Linked DNA regions of Homo sapiens: all the other regions are linked to region 1. Evidence: fine-mapped expression QTL. A gene starts in region 1. Each other region holds a variant in brackets. All regions are shown on one strand. Distances are between the middles of the regions.

Region 1 (8,186 bases):
AGAGACAAAGAAAAAATGAGAATGAACTTCTGATTTACTAACCAGTTGAAGTTTTTAATTCCCCTAACATTGTTAGTTTTAGAAAAAGAATGATTTCACTATTAATTAAAACAAATCGCTATAAACCTCACTTTCTTACCTATTCACGTACAAACACTAATCGTGACTATCTGACAAATTAAATAAGTTTTATTTCATAAAATAATTGTATCTATTAGCATTGCTATTCATATTGATGTGATCTTCTTAGAAAAGTTATCCGATGAGTATTAAAATTAAAATTTTGTACAAGTCAAGAAGTGAATTTAGTGGCCTAGGGTCTTCACAAGTTGACATTACTTGTATTACTAAAATTCATCTAGAATATATGGCAGTCTAAGCTCATGGGCTGCCCTGAAGCAAAACAAGTTAAAGCTTAAGTACATTCGCAGAAATGGTACAATTTGAACTGCTTGTATAAATTAAGTGGCTGGCACTACCCATTAGCTCCCTAAAGCCTGTGCCCACCCCCAACCCCAACTCTGCATCATTTGTTTATGCTTAAACATATTTCCTATGGCCTTATCCTAATATTTATGACCATTGACACAATTCTCTGTACTTGATTATATTTGTCCTACTCGTTTTAAAATTATCTAAAAAAAGATTTCCTCCAAGTAAAAGTTCCATACACACACACACACACACACACACACACACACACGTACACACACAACCTTAAAATGAGCACAAAGGCTCTTAATTCCATTTTAAGACTTGTGGCTTACTCCAATACATAATGCAGTGGATATATAAAATGTTACTTGATGTCAAGGTGAAAAAGCACTTTCTTAGCCAAGTCGTTAAAATTTTCCTTAGAAGTTCCATTTTTAGTACTGGCTGTTACTGATAGCTTAGTTTTAATTGAAGTTTATTTTAAAATTGTTAATTAATAAGTATAACACACTTTAATCCTATTTCCCCCATATTAACCTATGAGGAAAACAAAAAGTTTTACCAGCACATAGTATTGCATAAAAGAAACACAAAACTAACATAAACTGCTTAGCCTGTTTTAGTAACCTTAACAAAGTCCTGAAGGTTTCAATAACTAAAATATTGCAATATTAATCACCTGGAAGCAGGTAAATTTTGTATAGAACAACCACCACAAACTATATACTTTCTTTAATCATATCAGAAAACCACACTTTTAAGCCAGACATGATGAATGCTAAGAAGAAAATACTTAGCACCAATTTTTTACTAGTCCAAATGCAGTATGTGTGACTAAAATCATAATAAAAAAATCCATTTACAGCACAACAATTAAGTGATGAAAACCATGAGACCATCCTTGGACCCAAAACTAACATCACTACTAGTTTATCGTAAGTTATTCATCTGCTTTAAAATAACTTAGTTGTTAAATTGGGAGAAAATAGAATCTTTACAATGAAAAATAACTATCGAAAAATGCCTGACATATTTGGACAGCTCCCTCCTGATTTTCTATAGCATTTCTATTACGTGCCTTACTTTCATTTTCTCTGGTTTACCAAATCAGAAATGAGCCCAATCAAAGTGGTTTCTGCGGTTTGGTTTTGGGTATTTTTGTTGTGTTGTGATTTGTTTTGTTTTGGGACAAAAGATCCCTCTAGTGAAAGAGATTACGGAGCTACATAACAAGAAAAATGCTGTCCCCAGTTCAAGATCCGCCTCCCTGTATTGAGCCAATTTTTGTTTTACCAAAGCTGGCAGGCAGGGAGCTGATGTTCCACCTCCATTCCCTGCTGCAACCCCAACGCCAGTCAAGTACCGGAGCCTCGCCCCATCTGAGACAGTGGGGAGAGCTCCTTAGTATTGAGGTATTTCAAGAACTTTCCTAAGCAGATACTCCCACGGAGACAAGGAGCCACATAGAAAACAATCGCCAAGAGTAAGTTTGTGCGTCCTGAGCAGGGATGGAGAACCCACTGCACTGAACTACGGAGATTCGGATCTGGCCCAGTAGCACCATCCATTTGCAGCAGCGCAAAGAATTCGCCTTCTGCGGAAGGCTTTGCAGCACGGGTGGAACTCTCAACAGCTTTATCAAATAAGATAATCTAATATGAAACAAAAACGCTCTGGAGGCAGCTGGGTACCCTAACCTGGTTACTCTGCGTGGTTAACGTGTCCTAGGTCTGATGGACCAGACCCCAGCGGGCCTGAACTTTGTCGGAAAGCGGAGCCGCCAGGCATTTGGCAGCTGCCAGAGGCGCACCAGGCCGGGTCTCAACCTGGGAGGTCAGCGGGCCAAAGCGGCCTGGGGAGGCAGTGGCCCCACCTGGACGCCGGGCCGTCGGGCGTCGGAGCCCCGCTCTGCCTCCACCAAGCTGTCCCGCTGCGCCCTACGCCGCCACCAGGCAGGAGGAGCCGCTACCAGTACCTCAGAGTGGGACTCTCCATCCTCAAGTCTGCGCTCCAGAAAAGTGTAGCAAGCCTCCCACGCGGGGCTTCAGACACCTAAAAGTCGCCACTCCCCCAAGAGTAACCTCCACCCCCACCCCCACCCCCAACTTCTCTTTCCTCCTTTTCTTCAGCAATGTGGACCAACAGTTACTTTTCCCTCTCTTCCCTTCCCCTCCGAAGTCCCCGGGGCAAAGTGGGACTTTGGGGAGCCTCGTGGAACGCGCCTCTCCCCTGGCGCGCCAGGTCCACAGCTCCTTTTAATCACCGCAATAAAGTTCAATTTGCTCGGCTCTTTACGAGCCACGGTGGACTTTCCCGTGCGCTCCGTGCGTTCTACCTCCCGCCGAGCCAACAGCATCCTACTCACTCCAGCCCAGCTTGGGTCCTTGAAGGACGTCGGGCCACGCAGAGGGGACCCACTGTTCTCGCTGCAAAGTGCCCCAAGCCGCGCGCGCGCACACACGCATCCACATCCACACTCACACAATGCCATCCCCGCGCTGTCAAAGTCTGTGAGCGCGGAAGGGAGAACGCACCAGCTGGAGCCGCACGGGCGCGGGCAGTAGCACAGCCCAGCGTCGGGACACGCAGTCCGGGTCCCAACACCTTCGTCGGGATGCCCCGGCCACCACGCGCCTCGTAACCCCCAAAGACCACGCCAGCCGTCCCGGGGGCGTCGCGGGCGCTGCCGGACAGAACCTTACCCGCGGGGCGCGTGGTCTCCGGCCGCTGGGCTGGCGCGCGGGCCACAGGGACGCTGCAGCCAGGGTCCCGAAGATGCTGCTGCTCCGCTGCCGCTGCCCCGATCCCCGGCGCCAGCATCACTTCTCTGCCGCCCCCGCCTCCTCGTGCTCCGCTCTCTCGGCCGCCCCTCCCCGGCGGCCGCCTGCAAGACCGGCAGCGCCGGCGGCGCGGCGGGGTGGGCAGCAGCAGAGGCGGCGGCGGCGCCCGCGCGAGCTCGCCCAGCTGCACTAGCCGAGCAGCCGCGGCGGCAGCCGAAGCACCCGAGCCCGGCTGCGCTTCCCCGGCGATGGCTCTGGCCTCGGCGACTGACAACGCCCGGCAGCCAATCGCTGCCTCGCCCCGCTCGGCGGGGGGAGACCAATCAGAGCGGAAGGCCCAAGGTTTTCCTCCGCCTTTGCTCAGCGGGCTTGTTTCCGGGAGAGGCAGCGACGCTGCTGGGGTTTGGGATGGGGGAGGCGCGGGAGGGGCGCAGGATGGGGGACTCGTGGCCCCGGAGCCTTAGGTGAGGAGGGAAAGCCGGGCCCGCAGGGGTGGGCCTGGGGCGCTTTCTGACCGCCAGGAGCCCGCGGCTTGGCAGGAAAGGGCGCCGCGGGGTGACTTTGTCCCCAGAGCCTCGTCCCTGCGGTTCAGCGTCTTGGCATCGCTGGGGCGAGGGGGGAGCGGGGAGGGGTCGCGGGACCCGAGTACGAACGGCGCGGCTGGAGAGCGAATCCCAGGAGGTGGTCGCCGCCTTGAAGGAATCACGCGAACAGTCACCAGACAGCGCCCCCGTCCTTCTCCCTTTGGCAGCTGAAAAGAGTACTACTTCTTAGGCTTCGAACCACTCCTCATAGTAATCAGCCACGAAGTGTCCCCAGCTAGCAAAGAGGCACACGGAGAAATGTCGGAGTTGTAGGCAGAGTGGACCTTCCCCGTCTTCCCTCCAAATAAACGCCCCTCACCTCCCCACCCCAAACGCAACAAACAAACAAACAAAAAACCTTGAGAATGGGGAAAGATAATTTAAGCAGCCACCCTAATTGGTTGGCTTCCTTTTTTTCCTTTTTCTTTGGATAATCAAGTCTGAATGTTCTAATAGTTTTTTTTAATGTGTGTTTGACTCAAACACTAGCGAAGTAATGTTATTTAGCAATAAAAGAAAAAGAAAACAAAAGCCACAAAATGTTTTTCTGCACCACTCTCCCCTAAATTGTAATGATCTTCCCTTATGGAACATTTTTAGTTTCTTTAGTACAAATATGTCTGAATGGCTCAGAGTTCTACCAATAAGTTTATATTACAATGTTCTAGTAAAAAAAAAAAAAAAAGTTGTACATGAAGGTTGTAATAAGCTTGGGACCTTCCCAAAGTGACCCTCTGATAAATAGTCATACCCACCTCACAACGTTGTTGTGAGGGTCAAAAATCAAGTGTGTATATCAGCTACATAGTTGACAAATTGCTGGAATTCAATGTGTCTTAGCTATGATGCTGAAGCTCTTCTTGCTAATTGTATTTTTAAGGGATCCTTTTTGTTTGCAATAATAATCACCCTTTTCTTCACTTACCTTACTCTTTAAAAACTCCATATATCCTGTGATCACCAAAACAAACCCTGTCTAAATTTTATTAGCATTATGAGGAAAATTTGATTGCAAAATAGATGTGTATTGCCATCTTTTAGTACTATAGAAATTATGTGCATATCATCACTGTTTTTTCCAATTCTCTTATGCCTTCCTCCCCTTCAGTAATTTGACCAATGTAGTTTGGGAGCCAGATGATCTCTTCTTAAAAGAACTGGCTGTGCTAATAGATAAGTTCATTTTTTTAAAGGCTAAAAACAGAGAATATGGACCACACCACACTAGATTTTTAATCTAGAGAGGGGTTTTTGTTGTTGTTTTGTTTTCAGAAATTGTATATGTAGTTCTTTATTATTGTGCAATGACATAAAATCAGCACCCTAATTGACTATATGAGGTAATAAAGGGGAAAAATGAATAATAAAGGAATAAAAGAGTGAAGCTGAAATCTGGGAGAGAAAGAAAAATATATTTATTCAAAAATATATTTTATTCATGGGGAGGAGCTGATATTTGCAAAATGTAGAAATCTTAAAACTTAAATCTCAAAATCAAAATTAAAATGCAATGACAGTTTAGAAATATGCCTGATAAAAGGTAAGTTTTGAATGATTTTCCATTAAAAGCTAATTTTGACTTTAGAATGTTGTAAGCTATGTGGAAACTTGCAGAAATGTGCTTGCACAAGTATCAATATGATTTTTCTAACCATTCTCCCATGCCCTGCCAATTATGCTATTTTCCAGTATTTTATATCATCTTTCCATGTTATTCAATATTTTGCAACAGTTATCCTTGAAAATACATGGGTCCTATGTACCGTGTTTTTAGAGATTAAGACAATTAAATGACTATCCTACAGAAGCAAAAAAGCTAAAGAAAATCAACAGTCTGCATACAGATATAACACTAATATCTCATATCACTATTGCTACCATATCACTAATGCTGTATAAGCAGCTCTGAGAAAAAACACTTCATAATTAACAACGTACTAATGGTGAAAACCATGAAATATTTAAAATCAGTAAAGATGAAAAACCAAGACAAAATTTTTAAAGTATCTGAAAAGATTGCATGTTAAGTAGGTTTTCATGCATTATTATGAATTTCATGGGATATATTGGACAGAAAGTCCAGTGTTACTTAATTATATGACTGTTTAATAAGAAAATTTAATAACTTTTTTTGGCCTACGGATATGTCTGTTTTTCTCCTTGTGCAATGAGAGAATTCATTCCACTTGTTAATAGTGACAGAAATTGGCTTGGTCAGTACCAGCAATAATGGTCAATAATGATTGACCTAATCCTGAAAGTATGTAAAATAACTTCATATTAATTGATGTGGAAAATCTATATTTATTAGGAATAGGAACTGAATACTTCATTGGGATCCATTATGACAAAAGTTACATCTAGCAGGCAGAAAATTAAATAGGAAGTGAGAGAAATTGGTCTAGTTCCAGCTCTGGTTATGTCTGGGTGAGTAATCATAGGTCGGTCACTTAAACTTTCCCAGTATTCCTTATATGTAAAGTAGAGATTAAAAACAAAATAAAACCTATAGCTGCCTTTCTTAGAGATGAGGATTAACTTATAATTGAAACTACAAGCCACAATGGACTCTTGCAGAAAAGCCCTTCTTAAAAGGTGAAGAATTGGAATTTAATGATAAATACTACCCTCTCTCAAATGTGAATTAGTTTAATTCTTACAATGGCACTGTTCATTATGGATATGTAATATCTATTTCTAAAGATGAACATATTAAGTTTCAAAGAGTTCCTTTACCAATTTTAGGATAAATTGACTATCAGTTACACTTTATTTGTTGATGTTGCCCAGCTTAGAATGTTTTTCCTTTAGTTCCTTCACTATGCCACTTCCAATATTATTAAAATATGCAAGTTTAATGGTTGGCATCTTAATTTAAATGAAGGGCAGACTTTTATGTTTTATTATTGGATGTAAATTACACCTGAAATAAAGCCTATTTCCCTAAATAATATAACTTGTTAGATAATTTCAAATACAGAACACCTCAATTATCATATTTAAAAACTATAAAACTTCTATAAAATAAATATTTGTGCTCATATTATAAGATTGCTACATTAGGTTTTCTTTGCATTGAAAGATTGAAGCAAAATCAAAACGAGAAGACAAGAATGAAAACTAACAGAATAGATTAGATTCTACTAAGTTAATCATAACTAGCATTTTTAAAAATATTCTTTATACCAGGACCTGTGTGTACACACACATCTCACACACACACACACACACACACACAAATATAAGTAAAAGAAGAAAATCATTCATCAAAATTTTGTAGGAAACAGGACTCCAAACAGGCAAGTGTTCAAATTCCTAGCCCTGTACTCTTACCACCACAACATACTCTTTGCTACTGAGATTTGAGAGTTATCAATAAAGAGGAAATCATTGAAACTAAGATAATGTAAAATATTTTGAAGGAAAGAGTATAGTAGGGCAACAAGCCTAGAAGATCATTTATAATTAAGAAAAAGTAAGGATAGTGTTTATTTTGGAGCGGGGGCGAAATTTGATCTGAAAATCAACTCTTGACTGTAAGTATTGACAAGAGATGGTGAGAATGGGTGAGAAGATCTTTGGTTTCCTTTAAAAAGAATTGTGGTAGGGCGATTAGGGTGACAACCATTTGATCCACGCAGAATGGGGAAAGGATAATTCAAGTGGGATATTTACATTAGAAAAGAGTTACGTTTCTTTACGTTCAATATTTTAAAATGGAGGTAGAGTCATGATTTATGCAGAAGGCTGTATAAAAAACTTGAATTGACATAGTTTCATAAAGTCTTAAATTATTGACAGTCTTTATTACTGTTATGTTTAAAACAAAAGCATGTTTAAAGATATGCAATCCTTCATTTGAGTGTTTGTTTATAATGTTATAGAAATCAAGTCATTACCAAAATTGCGGAAAAGATACCTCTTTACCTCATTAGATTCCATTTTCAATTTTTATAATTTAAAATTTGGTCATTTGCTTGAGTAAGAAAATCCAACGTCTATTAATAATGAATTTTTTTTTCTTTAAGCTGTGATTACTTAACAGCAGCTACATATGACATTGGTGCAGCATGACATGGAAAAGTAGAAGGAAGGCATATGCTTGTGTGTGTGTGTGTGTGTGTGTGTGTGTGTCGGGGAAGGGGGAGTAAGGAAGAAGTGAGAGGCAAGAAGGAGTAAGGAAGGAGAAAAGGAGCAGAGTTTTCAAGTTATTTGTAAAGCATTCTCTATGGCTTCATTAGTCAATACTAGGTTCTGAAGCCACTTAAAGCATAGGACACTATAAAATTAATTTTAAAAAATTAATGACTCCTGTATTACCATAACAGAATGCTATTTAAGTGTCTAGCATAGTGATAAGAGCTCAATAAATGTTTGGTCAAGGAAA
Region 2 (8,186 bases), 530 kb before region 1:
GTTTGAAATCAGTTTTTTGTGCAACAGAGGAAACAGCTGAGCATGCAGCAGTCTTTTCAACTAAATTCATACACATCCAGGATAATCAACAATGGTAGCATCATCTTCAAATAGGCAGCACATGGGCCCATATTGATATTGACAGTTCACAATTGTGGACAAGTTTGAAGTAAATTAATGTACAAACTTTTCACGTGAAAGCCTGAAAGCATTTCACTGAAGGCTGGGGAACATTTGCACGTCTCCTTGATTGTCTAACCAAACTTTTTTTTTTTTTTTAAGTATGAACGAATCCCTACCCTGCCCTGTTCCCGCTTAATGTCTTTCCTCATCCAAATGACAATGGTATGTTTGCCGCACAGCCTGCCCGCTACTGACCCCTGCTCCCAGGTCTGTGAAAAAGACCCGGCCTTAGTGAGGTTTGTCATTCAGGAAGCTGCTCAAGTGTTGAGGGCTGCAGAGAATTCACTTCTGCTCAGTCCTTGAAGACATTTCTCTGGGCGTGACTTCCAGACTCTGGTGGGCATTGGCGAGAACGACAGAGAGAAATGATGCAGTGGTCAACAGGACTTCCACACAAATGTCAATGCTTGGTGAGGAAAACACTGCTTTTAATCTTCCTGTGTGGTTGTTCATAAAGAACATCCGTGCTTTCTAGACATTTCTTTTGCCTTTTCCTCTCCTCCCAAAAGACTGTGGTTACTTGTAGTCAGCCCCTTCTCCTGGCCTTTCCATTTTCTCCTCAGAAGGACCACCACTCCATTTCATTTACCTACATGGGCTTTGCACCCCTCCTTGGAGCACTCGCCCTGCTATGGCTTCTCTTTCTCACATAACTTCCCACCCCATTCTCCGCGCATCTCAGAGGACTATTCTCCCAGATCATCTCATCCTGCCCAGCAGGAAGTCACAGCTCACATCTTAGCCAAGGGGAGGGGTAGAGATGATGCCAGTGGAGAAGGATATCAACAAAGGAGGAGAGAAGGAAAGGCATCAACTGAGACTTTTCAAGAGTGGGAAAAAGAGACATGAAAGGCCTCTGGAGCCTGAAAAATGAAACTCATAAGTGGGGGAAGACTTGGCTCCCCTTTCTGTCCTGCTCCAACTTTATTTATCATACTTTAGATATCTATTTTTTTTTCTTTCTTCTTCTTTTCTTTTTTTTTTTCCTTGAGATGGAGTCTTGCACTGTCACCCGGGCTGGAGTGCAATGGCGTGATCTTGGCTCCCTGTAACCTCCGCCTCCCAGATTCAAGTGATTCTCCTGCCTCAGCCTTCTGAGTAGCTGGGATTACAGGCACCCGCCACCAGGCCCAGCTAATTTTTTGTATTTTTAGTAGAGATGGGGTTTCACTATGTTGGCCAGGCTGGTCTCGAACTCCTGACCTCATGATCCACCTACCTCGGCCTCCCAAAGTGCTGGGATTACAGGCGTGAGCCACCGCACCTGGCCTAGATATCTATTTTTATTAGAAATAATTTTTGAAAAATGTCTGATATAGTGAGTAGGACATTATAGACAATCAGTAAGAGACAGTTATTAACGTATTGCTTTTTAAGACCCGAGTAACTCAAATCAGTATTGGACAATTTGGTTCAAACCATGAAGCAAAAAGTTAGTTTTGATAAAAGCCAGACCGTACTTTTGGTAAACGTTTCTCTCTGTTATAGTACACAGATTGTGGCAGTCAGTTGTGAGGGACAGCATGACAACTTATGATGACAGTCACCAAGTACTGAAATTTGAGTATGATAATTTTAGAGACAGGACAGTGTTAATGTCAAGACCTGCATTTCAGTCCCACACACATATTACTCCTGGAAATGTTCTGCAACCTCTATAGGCCCGTTTCCTAATCTGCAAAATGAAGATCCTACAGAACAAACCACACAGGGTTGGTTGTTTCTAGCTCAAATGGGATCATATATGCAAAGCTCATGGCACAGTGCTTAGCATAGAGTAAGCACTCAGTAAAGGCTGTCCATTATTAGGATTGTGATTTTTAAAAAGAGAGCACATTCAGGTTTGTCCTTGTGAAGATATCAATTTTATGCATTTGCCTACTGATTGATTTGCTTTCCTGAGAGACAAAGAAGGGGACATGTTTTAAACGTGCCTGTTGGGAATATAGGAGCCATGAGAAACTCATCTCTTATGCAGGAAAAAATATCAGAAACCACACACTGGTAGGTTCCCATCCACTCTATGACCTCTGCCAATCATATTTCTGACCATGTCACATTCCCACAGAACACTTTCCATGAAGTGGTGTTTATTAATTCATTCGGCAGTTCATCACAGGTTAGACTTATTTCACTCGAGCTTGAGAGCAATTTTGTGCTATTAGGAAAGATGTGAGAAGTCATTTATGGGACGGCAGGTAGACTCAATTGGTGACAGGGGATTTGTTGACTGTTTCACATTATAGGGCGTTTTCCAAATTCTAGGACTAGATGGTGTATGCTAATTCATTTGACTAACAACTGTAGAGCATCCACTTCTTTTAGGCCCAGGAATAGGTGCCAGGGAATCAAAGGTACATTACACAGCATCACAGTCTGGTGAGAAACATGAGGTCTTATACACAGCTGAATAAATATTTGTTGAGGCAACTGGGAAATAAACCCTTACTTAATTCTGTGTGTTCTTAGAGAGCTTAGAGCAACCTACCCTAAGAGGGCAGGGGAGGGGGCTGAATGCTGTGGTTGTGACGGGTTTGTTGCCTGTCTCTGCTGTGCTTCGAGAGCCCTCTGTGTTGACCTTCTAGCAGTCTCTCTAGGGCTCAGTGAAACCCTCTCAGAAATAACTGTTACAAAGTCCCAGAAAAGCACACTGGGATGTGGCCAATCTCAACCCCAACAAACCACTCTTGGTGCCTTTCAAAGTCTGTAAACCCAGGAATTGTGTAATGCTCTGGTTTCCATTCCAGTTTGCTCAGTGGCTGAAGCACAGCTTGCGAAGGACTTTGGATATAGAGCATCCGAGGCCATATGCAAACACGCCATCAGAAAGTGCACTCTGAGCAGCAGCCACGCACTGAGCAGGGACTGCCAGAGAGGGAAGGGGTGGGGTGGGCGCTATTTGCAGAAAACAGGCCTGACTCCCTGCTCCTTAGCTCACTACTGCCCATAGCGAGAGCTGCTTGGCTTCATGTTGCCCATTCAGTCTCACCTAGGTGCCAGTCTAGACCAATGCAGTTCCCTAGTTAGGGAGAATTTAGGGGGCCCAAGGGCAGTAACACAGTGGCAAGGATCTCGTCATATTTCCAACTGACCGTGTGCTCAGCCTTTAGGAGTTGAGCCAACTGCATTTTGTTTTGTTCTTTGTGACTAAATAGACCACCTTGTACCCTGCTTACCGTGACTGGCACCTGTCTTGTTCTTTGTACCCCAACCTTTGGAGCCTTGTTTCTTTAACTGGCAGGTGAATCTTAAAGCACTGACTTGAAGGGCTGTTTTGGGCAGTAGATGAAA[T/C]AGCTTGTGAGGCATCTGGCACAGAGAATATGTGCCATTTGTGCTGGTGTCTGAGTCTTGACCTTTGTACATTCTGTCCCACTGGTGTTCTTGGAGCCTGGAGTTCTGCCTCTGAACAGGAAGCATGATTGTTCTGGTGTCGAGGACATTTGGTAGAGTACAGTGGAAAAATACGTGATTTATTTACCAATACTGTCATCCTTAGTATCTGATGGGGATTGATTCCAAGATTCCACCATACAAAATCAGCAAATGCTTAAGTTCCTTATATAACATGGTGCAGGATTTGCATATAACCTACATGCATTCTCCTGTGTGCTTTAAATCATCTCTAGATTAGTTATAATACCTAATACAATGTAAATGTTATGTAAATAGTTGTTATGCTGTATTTTTTACTTATATTATCTTTTATTGTTGTGTTGTTATGTTTTATTGTTTCTCTTTTACAAACATTTTCAATCCACGGTTGGTTGAGGCCTCAGATGTGGAACCTGTGGATACAGTGGGCTGATTCATATGTGCCATAAACATCCCTGACTCTCACCCCATCTTTGACTTTCATTCCTTCTTTGAGCCTTATTCAATACTGGTCATCACCTGATCCCTTACACTCACCCCATTCCTGACAGGGTGTCTTCTAATCAGTTCTTGAGTTTCTTCAAGGGTTTAAGCCTCAGAGACCTCCTCAGGGGCATAGGGAGCACCAGGCTGCTATGCTAATGTGCAGGGAATTGAGTCTAGCCCACCATCTCCTGTTGCCTCCTCTTCCTCAGCTCTGGTTCAGTTGCTTGGGGAGCTGTCCCAAGAGAGATCAGGGACCAAATGACACTGGTCCCTGTCCTTCCTGTCAACTCCTCTTCCTTAGGCTCTGGAGGCTTGAGGGGAAACCTGGCCAGGTTGAGGCTGGAGAGGATCAAGCCATGAGCCCTGGAGGGTGGAGTGGTAGAGAGGACTGAGCGCAAGACCGGGAGTCAAGTGACCTGACCCATTCCCTGCCGTGTGACCTAGGCTCACCCCACATCACTTTAGGAAATGTAGGCAAGATGTAGAAACCAAATGCAGAGGTGAGGGTCTGCTACTCTTCTCAGCTGAAGAATGTCAAGGAAAGCCCATTTGAGGGAAATTGTATGGCACCAATCTCTACTCTGAATAAAAAGAAATGATGCTGAAATTAAGGCCTTAGCTTATTGGACTGAAAGAGAAGGAATCAGAGGGAAAACATTTGTAACATTTGCTCTGAATTTGTCATGGTCTAAGATCTTTATCAGTATTTAATTTAAAAGGAAAAATAAAACCACCTGGCAACCTCACAGTGGATATTGAATTACAAGCTGGATAAGTTGTTAAACACCTATGCAAGGCAACAGAGATAGAAGAGTGGAGCCAAGGGCTGTGGCACAGACTCCCTGCCCAAGCCCGAGACAAAGTCAGAGGGGCAGATGCACAATCACAGTGTCTCTCATTTCTACAGGAGCTGGAGTCAAGAGTGGTGTGCTTTCTGAACAACTGCCCTGGGTGGGTCAGAGAAAAGGGATCGATCCCTATCTCAGAAGTGAAAATGAAAAAGGTGCTCTAAGGGGAAAAATTATTTATGGTGTACTCTGAGTCTGACAACGTGGAATTAGTAAGAGAATTGTCTTCTATTGGTGGCCTTTTTATATATGTATATATAATTTATATATATATATAATTTATATATAACACACACACACACGTGCACGCACACACACACACACACACCCCTGCATATATCTTATTGGTTCTTTCTCTCTGGAGAGCCCTGACTAACATTGTCTCCTTTGCTAACAAGTTCCTCAAGCCAAGGTCCTAGGCCTTCTTTTCTTCTCACTCTAAGTTTTGCTTGTTTTCTTTTTTCTGTTTTTTTTTTTTTTTTGAGACGGAGTCTTGCTCTGTCGCCCAGGCTAGAGTACAGTGGCGCGATCTCGGCTCACTGCAAGCTTCGCCTCCCGGGTTCACGCCATTCTCCTGCCTCAGCCTCCTGAGCAGCTGGACTACAGGTGCCCGCCACCACACCCAGCTAATTTTTTGTATTTTTAATAGAGACGGGGTTTCATCGTGTTAGCCAGGATGGTCTCGATCTCCTGACCTGGTGATCTGCCCACCTCGGCCTTCCAAAGTGCTGGGATTACAGGCAGTTTTGCTTGTTTTCTATGCAATTTTTTTTTCTGCCCATGACCTCAGTTGCCATCTGCATGTGAATAACTCTTAAGTTTATATTCTAGCTCAGAGATCTCTCTCTATGGATCTCCAGACCCACACATCTAATTGTGTACTTGGATATCTGAAGGGCATCTGAATGCAACATATGCAAAGGTAAATTCATGATCCTGCAACCCTGATCTTCTTTCATGGTTCCCCACTTCTGTGAAATGTACCTCTCTGTATCGGAAAGACCTGGAGCCATTCCTAACAGCTCTGGCTCAGCTGCTTGGGGACCTGTCCCAAGAGAGATCAGGGACCAAATGACACTGGTCCCTGTCCTTCCTGTCAACTCCTCTTCCTTAGGCTCTGGAGGCTTGAGGGGAAACCTGGCCAGGTTGAGGCTGGAGAGGATCAAGCCATGAGCCCTGGAGGGTGGAGTGGTAGAGAGGACCGAGAGCAAGACTGGGAGTCAAGTCCCGGTTTCACCTCTTAACTCTGTACCTAATCCATCACCACATCCTGCCAATGTCACTTCAGAAATTTCTCTTATATCTCTACTTCTCTCAAGCTCCACTACCACCACTCAAGCTATGGGTATCTCTTATCTTGACTCCTATATTAACTTTGCAAGTTGCAAGTTGCAAGTAGCTGCCTATTCTCAGTCTGTCCTCTAAATTTCTTTCTTTACACTCCAGCTATAGTGATCTTTCTAAAAACTAAGTCTGATCCTATCATTCTGTGCCATTATGTGTTGGAAATCATACCATGATTGGTTCCCAAGGCTCTACATGGTCTTATCCTGCTGCAGTTTTCCCCTTGCTTTCTAGACTCCAGCTAAACTAGCTTTTTCTTTTAATTCCTGAAAATGAAGTCCCCATCATGGGTTCTTTGAATATACTGTTTTTACTCTAGTTTTAAGAATTTGGAATATTCTTCCCAACTTCTCAGCTATCATATCAGGAGTCATTTCCAGAGGAAACTGTTGTGTTCCACACACCCCTTCCTCAGCCTAGTCAGATTCCTTTATTACACAATCTCATAGTATTTCTCTAAATCAAAGCAAATAATAATAGCTAAGAATTATCACGTGCTTGCCAAGTTCAAGTGTCAAGCACACTGCTAAATATTTTATAATTGTTATATCTAAATATTATCTAATTTAAAATTAGAGAAATAGCCAGTATTATCATTCTTATTTTCCAAGAGAGGAACCAGAGAACCTGGGTGATATGCTGACAGCATATTCAGCAGTGTGATGAGTTTAGTGGATATTTGGTTCCCCCACTGGCCTGTGTACTTGGAATGAGCTGGGGCCACTGTTCATGGATCAGCACTGTTAGAGGACTGCCTGGCATGTAGAATGTGTTCCATATGTACTTGTTGAATGAAATAATGAATATTCAAATGAGAAATGAACCAGGGCATATTTTAACATGAAAACTGGGTATTCCTTTTGTTCGCTATACCAAATTAGTCACCTATGAGATTGTTTACAAAATTCTAGACAGCTGCTTGCAAATGAGAAAATGGCATTCCTAATATTGGAGATGCTTTAGAGTAGCCTCCACTTTTCATTTTAATGACCATCTGCTCCATTTCCAAATGAGGCACCAACTCAGTTTAATTTTACACACAGTTAAGAATGATTTTTTTTTTAGTTCCAGTCCTTTTGGGGCTTCTAAAAGCACACACACTCAAGCACACACTTAGAAAGATGCATACTCTCTGTTAGGTCCACACCAGCAGCTGTAACAAATAAGCCCTAAATTTCTAAGCCTTAACACAATAGGTGGTTATTTCTTGTGTAACAACCTAGCGTTGCTGCTTGGCCAGAAAGCTTTTCACCTGGTGATTTGGGAACCCAGGCTTTCTTCACCCCATGGGGCCCCCACCTGGGGGGGTCTCAGAGCTCCTTTACTGATGGCAGCAAGGCAAAAAGCATAGAGGAGGCATACCTCCTTCCTCAAAACCCTGGCTTCCAAATGAAGCATGTCACTTCTACTCATTTTGCATTGCTAGAAATTTATTATGTGGCCATGCCCAACTCTAAGGAAGGCTAGGAAATGCGGTCTATCTATATGTCCAGGAAGAAAAAAGAGAAAACACATCTGATTGAATCATCAGCATTCTCTGTCCCACCCTTGTCCTCATAGTACAATGCAGAGAGATGCTGTAAGATTAGTAAAAAGTGCCCTCGGGTAAGGGAAGAAGGAGCTTAATTTTCACTGTGGACATCTGAAAAGGCATGTGGAGGAGTGAATTTTGAGTGGGGCTTGAAGAATAAGCAAGTCCTTGATAGGAAGAGATGGCAACAGGCATAACTGAGATGAAAACCAGTGCCAAGAGAGAGGAGGTCTGAAGCCAGGTGGGAGTAAGAAGGCGAAAAGAAATGTATGCCTGTGCCTTGGTCTGTGTGTAGGCAACTCAGAGTCAAGTGTAAATGTTATTTTAATAATCTCTTTGTCTTGGTTTTCCTGTGCTCCTTCTTTAAGTAATTAAATAACAAACAGAATCCCACCCTCCACCGTGAGTATCTTGGTCCCTAA
Region 3 (8,186 bases), 510 kb before region 1:
GGGAGACTTTAACACCCCACTGTCAACATTAGACAGAAAGTTAACAAGGATATCCAGGAATTGAACTCAGCTCTGCACCAAGCAGACCTAATAGATATCTACAGAACTCTCTACCCCAAATCAACAGAATATACATTCTTCTCAGCACCACATTGCACTTATTCCAAAATTGACCACTTAGTTGGAAGTAAAGCACTCCTCAGCAAATGTAAAAGAACAGAAATTATAACAAACTGTGTTTCAGACCACAGTGCAATCAAACTAGAACTCAGGATTAAGAAACTCACTCAAAACCGCTCAACTACATGGAAACTGAACAACCTGCTCCAGAATGACTACTGGGTACATAACGAAATGAAGGCAGAAATAAAGATGTTCTTTGAAACCAACGAGAACAAAGACACAACATACCAGAATCTCTGGGACACATTCAAAGCAGTGTGTAGAGGGAAATTTATAGCACTAAATGCCCACAAGAGAAAGCAGGAAAGACCTAAAATTGACACCCTAACATCACAACTAAAAGAACTAGAGAAGCAAGAGCAAACACATTTAAAAGCTAGCAGAAGGCAAGAAATAACTAAGATCAGAGCAGAACTGAAGGAAATAGAGACACAAAAAACCCTTCAAAAATTCGATGAATCCAGGAGCTGGTTTTTTGAAAAGATCAACAAAATTGATAGACCGTTAGCAAGACTAATTAAGAAGAAAAGAGAGAAGAATCAAATAGATGCAATAAAAAATGATAAAGGGGATATCACCACTGATCCCACAGAAATACAAACTACCATCAGAGAATACTATAAACACCTCTACGCAAATAAACTAGAAAATCTAGAAGAAATGGATAAGTTCCTCGACACATACACCCTCCCAAGACTAAACCAGGAAGAAGTTGAATCTCTGAATAGACCAATAACAGGATCTGAATTGAGGCAACAATTAATAGCTTACTAACCAAAAAAAGTCCAGGACCAGACTGATTCACAGCCGAATTCTACCAGAGGTACAAGGAGGAGCTGGTACCATTCCTTCTGAAACTATTCTAATCAATAGAAAAAGAGGGAATCCTCCTTAACTCATTTTATGACGCCAGCATCATCCTGATACCAAAGCCTGGCAGAGACACAACAAAAAAAGAGAATTTTAGACCAATATCCCTGATGTACATCGATGCAAAAATCCTCAATAAAATACTGGCAACCAAATCCAGCAGCACATCAAAAAGCTTATCCACCATGATCAAGTGGGTTTCATCCCTGGGATGCAAGGCTGGTTCAACATATGCAAATCAATAAACGTAATCCAGCATATAAACAGAACCAACGACAAAAACTACAATTATCTCAATAGATGCAGAAAAGGCCTTTGACAAAATTCAACAGCCCTTCATGCTAAAAACTCTCAATAAGTTAGGTATTGATGGGACGCATCTCAAAATAATAAGAGCTATCTATGACCAATATCATACTGAATGGGCAAAAACTGGAAGCATTCCCTTTGAAAACTGGCACAAGGCAGGGATGCCCTCTCTCACCACTCCTATTCAACATAGTGTTGGAAGTTCTGGTCAGGGCAATCAGACAGGAGAAGGAAATAAAGGGTATTCAATTAGGAAAAGAGGAAGTCAAATTGTCCCTGTTTGCAGATGACATGATTGTATGTCTAGAAAACCCCATCATCTCAGCCCAAAATCTCCTTAAGCTGATGGGCAACTTCAGCAAAGTCTCAGGATACAAAATCAATGTACAAAAATCACAAGCAGTCTTATACACCAATAACAGACAAACAGAGAGCCAAATAATGAGTGAACTTTCATTCACAATTGCTTCAAAGAGAATAAAATACCTAGGAATCCAACTTACAAGGGATGTGAAGGACCTCTTCAAGGAGAACTACAAACCACTGCTCGAGGAAATAAAAGAGGATACAAACAAATGGAAGAACATTCCATGCTCATGGGTAGGAAGAATCAATATCGTGAAAATGGCCATACTGCCCAAGGTAATTTATAGATTCAATGCCATCCCTATCAAGCTACCAATGACTTTCTTCACACAATTGGAAGAAACTACTTTAAAGTTCATAGGGAACCAAAAAAGAGCCTGCATTGCCAAGTGAATCCTAAGCCAAAAGAACAAAGCTGGAGGCATCACACTACCTGACTTCAAACTATATTACAAGGCTACAGTAATCAAAACAGCATGGTACTGGTACCAAAACAGAGATATAGATCAAAGGAACAGAACAGAGCCCTCAGAAATAATGCCACGTATCTACAACCATCTGATCTTTGACAAACCTGACAAAAATGAGAAATGGGGAAAGGATTCCCTATTTAATAAATGGTGCTGGGAAAACTGGCTAGCCATATGTAGAAAGCTGAAACTGGATCTCTTCCTTACACCTTATACAAAAATCAATTCAAGATGGATTAAAGACTTAAATGTTAGACCTAAAACCATAAAAACCCTACAAGAAAACATAGGCAATACCATTCAGGACATAGGCAGGGGCAAGGACTTCATGTCTAAAACACCAAAAGCAATGGCAACAAAAGCCAAAATTGACAAATGGGATCTAATTAAACTAAAGAGCTTCTGCACAGCAAAAGAAACTACCATCAGAGTGAACAGGCAACCTACAGAATGGGAGAAAATTTTTGCAATCTACTCATCTGACAAAGGGCTAATATCCAGAATCTACAATGAACTCAAACAAATCTACAAGGAAAAAACAAACAGCCCCATCAAAAAGTGGGCAAAGGATATGAACAGACACTTCTCACAAGAAGACATTTATGCAGCCAAAAGACACATGAAAAAATGCTCATCATCACTGGCCATCAGAGAAATGCAAATCAAAACCACAGTGAGATACCATCTCACACCAGTTAGAATGGTGATCATTAAAAAGTCAGGAAACAACAGGTGCTGGAGAGGATGTGCAGAAATAGGAACACTTTTACACTGTTGGTGGGACTGTAAACTAGTTCAACCATTGTGGAAGTCAGTGTGGCGATTCCTCAGGGATCTTGAACTAGAAATACCGTTTGACCCAGCAATCCCATTACTGGGTATATACCCAAAGGATTATAAATCATGCTGCTATAAAGACACATGCACACATATGTTTATTGCGGCACTATTCACAATAGCAAAGACTTGGAACCAAGCCAAATGTCCAACAATGATAGACTGGATTAAGAAAATGTGGCACATATACACCATGGAATAGTATGCAGCCATAAAAATGATGAGTTCATGTCCTTTGTAGGGACATGGATGAAGCTGGAAACCATCATTCTCAGCAAACTATCTCAAGGACAAAAAACCAAACACCGCATGTTCTCACTCATAGGTGGGAATTGAACAATGAGAACACATGGACACAGGAAGGGGAACATCACACACTGGGGCCTGTTTTGGGGTGGGCAGAAGGGGGAGGGATAGCATTAGGAGATATACCTAATGTTAAAAGACGAGTTGATGGGTGCAGCACACCAACATGGCACATGTATACATATGTAACTAACCTGCACATTGTGCACATGTACCCTAAAACTTAAAGTATAATAATTAAAAAAAAAAAGAAAAAAACAAAACAAAACAAAAAAGAAATTTTGAGGCTGGGCATGGTGGCTCATGCCTGTAATCCCAGCACTTTGGGCGGCCGAGGCTCGCAGATCACTTGAAGTCAGGAGTTTGAGACCAGCCTGGGCAACGTGGTGAAATCTCGTCTCTACTAAAAATACAAAAATCAGCTGGACGTGGTGGTGCCCACCTGTAATCCCAGCTACTTGGGAGTCTGAGGCAGGAGAATGTCTTGAACCCGGGAGGTTGCAGTGTGCCGAGATCACGCCTCTGTACTCCAGCCTGGGCAGCAGAGTGAGACTCCATCTCAAAAGACATTTTGAGAAGAGTCATAAATCAGGGCAAATATGTGTATACTTCGTGCAATACATATTCCCCTGGAAAAAAGTCGTCATAAATACAAAAGGACCTGTGAAATATGCCTCCATTAACGTAAAATACAACTCTTTCATGGGGCTAAATGCCTACCCTAGAACTGCTCACTACTCAATAGGATTGTGCTGTGTGTGACAGAACGAGAGTGTGAATGGGTCAGTAAGAGTGTACTTTATATAAAAAAAAGTATTCCTTAGGAGAGTTTTGGATAAATGGACTGAATGTTCTTTCATTTATGAGGCTTTTGCTCAGGAAGCCAGTGATGCCAAGTACGCACAGGAAAACCATCTGCTAAAGGTCAAAGGGATGGGTGAGCTGCTACATACAAGACCCTGT[C/T]TTGATGCGGCTCTGCAGAGTCACAGCACCAGCATATTTCTCCTCTTCCTTACCTGGAAGACTGCAGATGCCTTAAATCATCCAGAATCCAACAACATGTTTTCCAAAAACAATAGAGCTACGCCTATTGTGAAATCTCAGGGACGACAGAAAACTCCACATATGCCCACACTATACCACTGCCACAGCAAGTTTTTATTTTTGTAAAGTAATGATCAATTTATGTATAAATGATTACAGTATTTGAGATCCAAGATCCTTGGAAAATCTGATGTTGCAATCAAAACATAATTGAGCTATTTTGGAATAGGAAGTCTATTTGTTCTTCAAAATGCATAAGTATCTAAAAATTAAATGATGACCCATTTAGCCATCTTGTTTAGTGCACTGTTGCTTCACCACAATTTTTTTAAGGATTGGCTCTAAGTAGACTTTCCTGTTTGATGGAAAGTTTCTGTATTCTGAAACCATTCCCCAGCCCAACCAAGGGGTGTGTGTGTGTGTGTGTGTGTGTGTGTGTGTGTGTGTGTTTGTTAGGGTCAAATGAACATTGTCAGCAGTGATGAATTAATTAATTTCCTCAAGTTACCTCACAATCCATCTGCACATCAATCATTTTTTGCAGCCTAAATAACACATGTGTAGGTACTATTATTTTTTCCAATGTGAATATATACCTTTGTGATAAAAAAATACTAATTTATTTAAAAGTGTTGTCAACTTCATTGTACATTTTTGTTATTGCTATTTTTCAATCCACCGATTAAAAAAACATAGCAACTCTCTATGGGCAATCAGAACATTTTAAACATTAAGAAAGAGCTGTCCTTCTTGGATTACATGCGTTGCTCTAACCTGGGGTAATGTATTTCAAGAGTTACTAATAAAATAATTGTAACAAGGGCTTAATAGGGACATGTAATACGATGGAGATATAATAGATATAATAGGATTTTCAATTACGAATGAGTTCCATTATAAGAATCATTAAGCCATTTGGTTATATTAAGATGAAATGTGTAGGCTTAGCCCCAAAGTAAAACATTTGCAAAACAATAGGTATTAACTCTGGGGATAAAAGTGAAATTGTGCGAGGAGCTGGTGGTGCACAGGGATTTCTTTTCATTCTCTAGACCTCTGTATTGTTTGAGGTGTTTACAACAATCATGCATTCAAATATTACTTTATAATTTAAAAAATGATAAAAAACAACCACACAAAATGAGATCAATAGCCTATTTGGGGGCCAGTGAGGTGCTGGCTCCAGGGCCCCTCTCTCAGTCTGTTTTCTTCCACAAGGCTTAAGTTCAGATGCTGAGAATGTTTTCATTCCTTGTAACTTCAGAGGCTGCCCCCCAAATTGACAATCATGTTCACCACATGCTAAGTCCGTGTGCTGGACACTTCACAATGAAGTCTGTCTGAGCTCACAGGGAGGACTGCAGTACAAGTTGTCATCTCAATATCACTTGTAGTGTGGCTACAGGTCTACAGTATATTCCCACCCAACTGTGCCCTGTGGCACAGCTGCCTATGTGTGCAGAGAGAAAGAATGATTCTTGCCTCCTGCCTCCAAACATGTGAAGGGATACCCCACAAAGCTTGTATAAAATCCCAGTCTGTCAGACACCAGGAGATTGTAGTTGGCTGATCCATGGTGGCTTCTCCTCAGTGTAACTCTATGAGAGCTGGTATTTGGTGTTAGGGATGCACCGAAATCATGTGACATTTAATGCCTTTAAACTTGAGAGGCTGTAGCAAATTCCATGCAACACTTGCTAATATGGTAAATCAATCTAAAATACTTGAAATTCTTTCCCCACAAATGTTGTCATGCTGAATTACTCCAGGTTAAGTGTTGTCATGTTGTATTATGGCATGACATTCAGGTAACTCATCATAGCAGATAAAAACATTTATGTCCTTCAGAAAATTTAATGGAAAGCAAATGCACTATTATTTTTTTCCGAGGAATCCAGTCAGATTTTAATAATGCATTATTTGCTACTTGACAAAACACACTCTTACCTAGATTGCATAGTCATAGTACAGTCTTGAATACTGTAGTGCAAACATCAGGGCCTGGGGCTTTGACAATATAGGTCCTTCAGGGCAATAGTGAAAATAAAGCCAGTTGAATGAGACCGGTCTTTGACGTGAAGTGAATGAAAACATCACAAATATAAGACTCAAGTTTCTCATTTTATGTTTAAGCTAGATCTTTAAATTTAAAGTATGGTCTGGAGGAAATGAATTATTTAAAATGAAGATTCACATTTTTTTTCTTCCATCTCCTATGTCTACAATGATTTCTCTTATTCATTCAGAGAGAATACAAACAAAATGGGGTGAATTTTCCAGGGATGGGTTCTTTGATAGACGACAAATACACATCAACTGGTTTTGTTTTCACTATTGCTCTGAAGGATCTATATTCAGGGCCTCAGGCCCGGATGTTTGCAGTATTGTATTCAAGACTATGTCTATAACTATGCATTCTAGCCAAGAGCCTGTTTTGTCAAGTACTAAATAATGCATTTACTCATTATTTACATGTCTGATTGGCCCCTTCACCTTTCACCCTGATGAATTTCTGTCAAATAGAAACAACCCTCAATGGATATATTCACTGAGTGGCTCTTTTGAAATCATTTCTCATGTATGGTTTCCAAACATGGGTGTTTAGACACTGTCTCCTTTCTACAAATGCTTTCTCTAGACTCTGCCTGTCAAAGCTAAATGAGCTTGGGACTTCTAGGCGAAGACGTGAAAGCTGTCCATCTACGCTCTTTATGGTCTCTAAGGACTCACCAAGAACTGGTCTTATTCAGACAACAAGTGCCCATCCCGAGTCACTGACAGAGACAAGGATCAACAGACTTTTTTTGGTTCCTCAGTGGAAACCTCTCTTTTGTGAAACTGAAAAGATGAGTTTAAATGGTGTGAGGCCAAGTTTCCAAAGGCTGTCCAATAGTGAGGAATCATTTCAAAGTCTCAAGGATCTGTGGTCAGGTAGGGAAGCTGAGATGCAGATACTACTAGGCAGATAGTACTTTTAGTGTACTAAGTACTTTCTTTTAGGTTGGAACTTAATTGTATTTGTATATCTTTATGCTTTATTTGATTTTGCTCTGTTGGGAAGAAAGTTTCAGGGGAAGGTTGTGAACAGGGTAGAATGATAATGGGTGTGGGGAGGGTAGTTCAGGTGGGAGTTTTTCCTCCCTAAACATTTTACTTAATGGTAAGAAAGTGTTCCAGAGATTATTTGATTGTGGGGATAAATAATCTTGGGGTTCCAAATTTTTGGAGGCATCATACAAGGATGCTGAGCACTGGCTATTCTGGGAGCTACTTGTATGTTCCATGTTTCTCCTCTGGGGCTTCCTGTCCCAATGATTTTATGTCCACGAAATAAAATGATGGGAAAAGTTTAATTGGACTGCATTAGAGCTAATAGTGAAATTCTATCTTTCACCCAGCATGAACTTTTTATATTCATTCAACAAATGTCTACTGAGAATAGATTCATGTCAGGTCCTATTTTAGGCACTTGGAATAAGTTAGTGTACAAAACAGATAAAAATCCTTGCTCTGGTGAAGCATACGTTCTAGCGAAGAGAAACTATGTGTATACATAAGTGTATACATAAGTGTATACATACACATTGCATTAATAGAACTTTTATTGAAGTCAGACAGAAATTTTGTTAAAACTAAGAACCTTTGTCTGTGGGTCTTGAACACATTTCACATTTCACAAAGTAATTAGGTTGCCCTTTAACATTTGCTTTAAACTTGCCCCTCATTTCTTAATGAGATTACAACCTCTTCACAGCTTGACAGGAACAGAAGAAATAAAGCCAAGCACAAGAAATAAAACCA

Alleles and levels. Alleles are on the strand shown, and positions count from the first base shown. SD is a standard deviation of normalised expression in the study named.
In carriers of allele C in region 2, the expression in cerebellar hemisphere of the gene that starts at base 3,471 in region 1 tends to be higher than with T alone (large effect, 0.88 SD a copy in GTEx).
With allele T in place of C in region 3, the expression in tibial nerve of the gene that starts at base 3,471 in region 1 is higher (small effect, 0.30 SD a copy in GTEx).

The links. PIP is the estimated chance that this variant, and not a neighbour inherited with it, causes the effect.
Region 2: its variant is the best candidate, but not a certain one, in a credible set for the expression of B3GALT1 in cerebellar hemisphere (GTEx, PIP 0.82).
Region 3: its variant is the best candidate, but not a certain one, in a credible set for the expression of B3GALT1 in tibial nerve (GTEx, PIP 0.55).

What each region holds. Positions count from the first base shown.
Region 1 is chr2:167,288,286-167,296,471 of GRCh38, reverse strand. It overlaps B3GALT1 (beta-1,3-galactosyltransferase 1), which reads right to left and starts at 3,471. Exons shown (of 5, transcript NM_020981.4): 1 at 3,138-3,471. RefSeq lists enhancers at 1,751-2,363, 3,592-4,205 and a silencer at 3,307-3,356.
Region 2 is chr2:167,822,469-167,830,654 of GRCh38, reverse strand. The region is part of intron 4 of B3GALT1 (beta-1,3-galactosyltransferase 1); the gene reads right to left. All of the region lies in intron 4 of B3GALT1-AS1 (B3GALT1 antisense RNA 1), which reads left to right. Among named protein-coding and RNA genes, the nearest start is that of B3GALT1-AS1, 110 kb to the left of the region's middle. The variant T/C (reference allele first, on the strand shown) is at 3,475.
Region 3 is chr2:167,799,730-167,807,915 of GRCh38, reverse strand. All of the region lies in intron 3 of B3GALT1 (beta-1,3-galactosyltransferase 1), which reads right to left. Among named protein-coding and RNA genes, the nearest start is that of B3GALT1-AS1, 140 kb to the left of the region's middle. The variant C/T (reference allele first, on the strand shown) is at 4,305.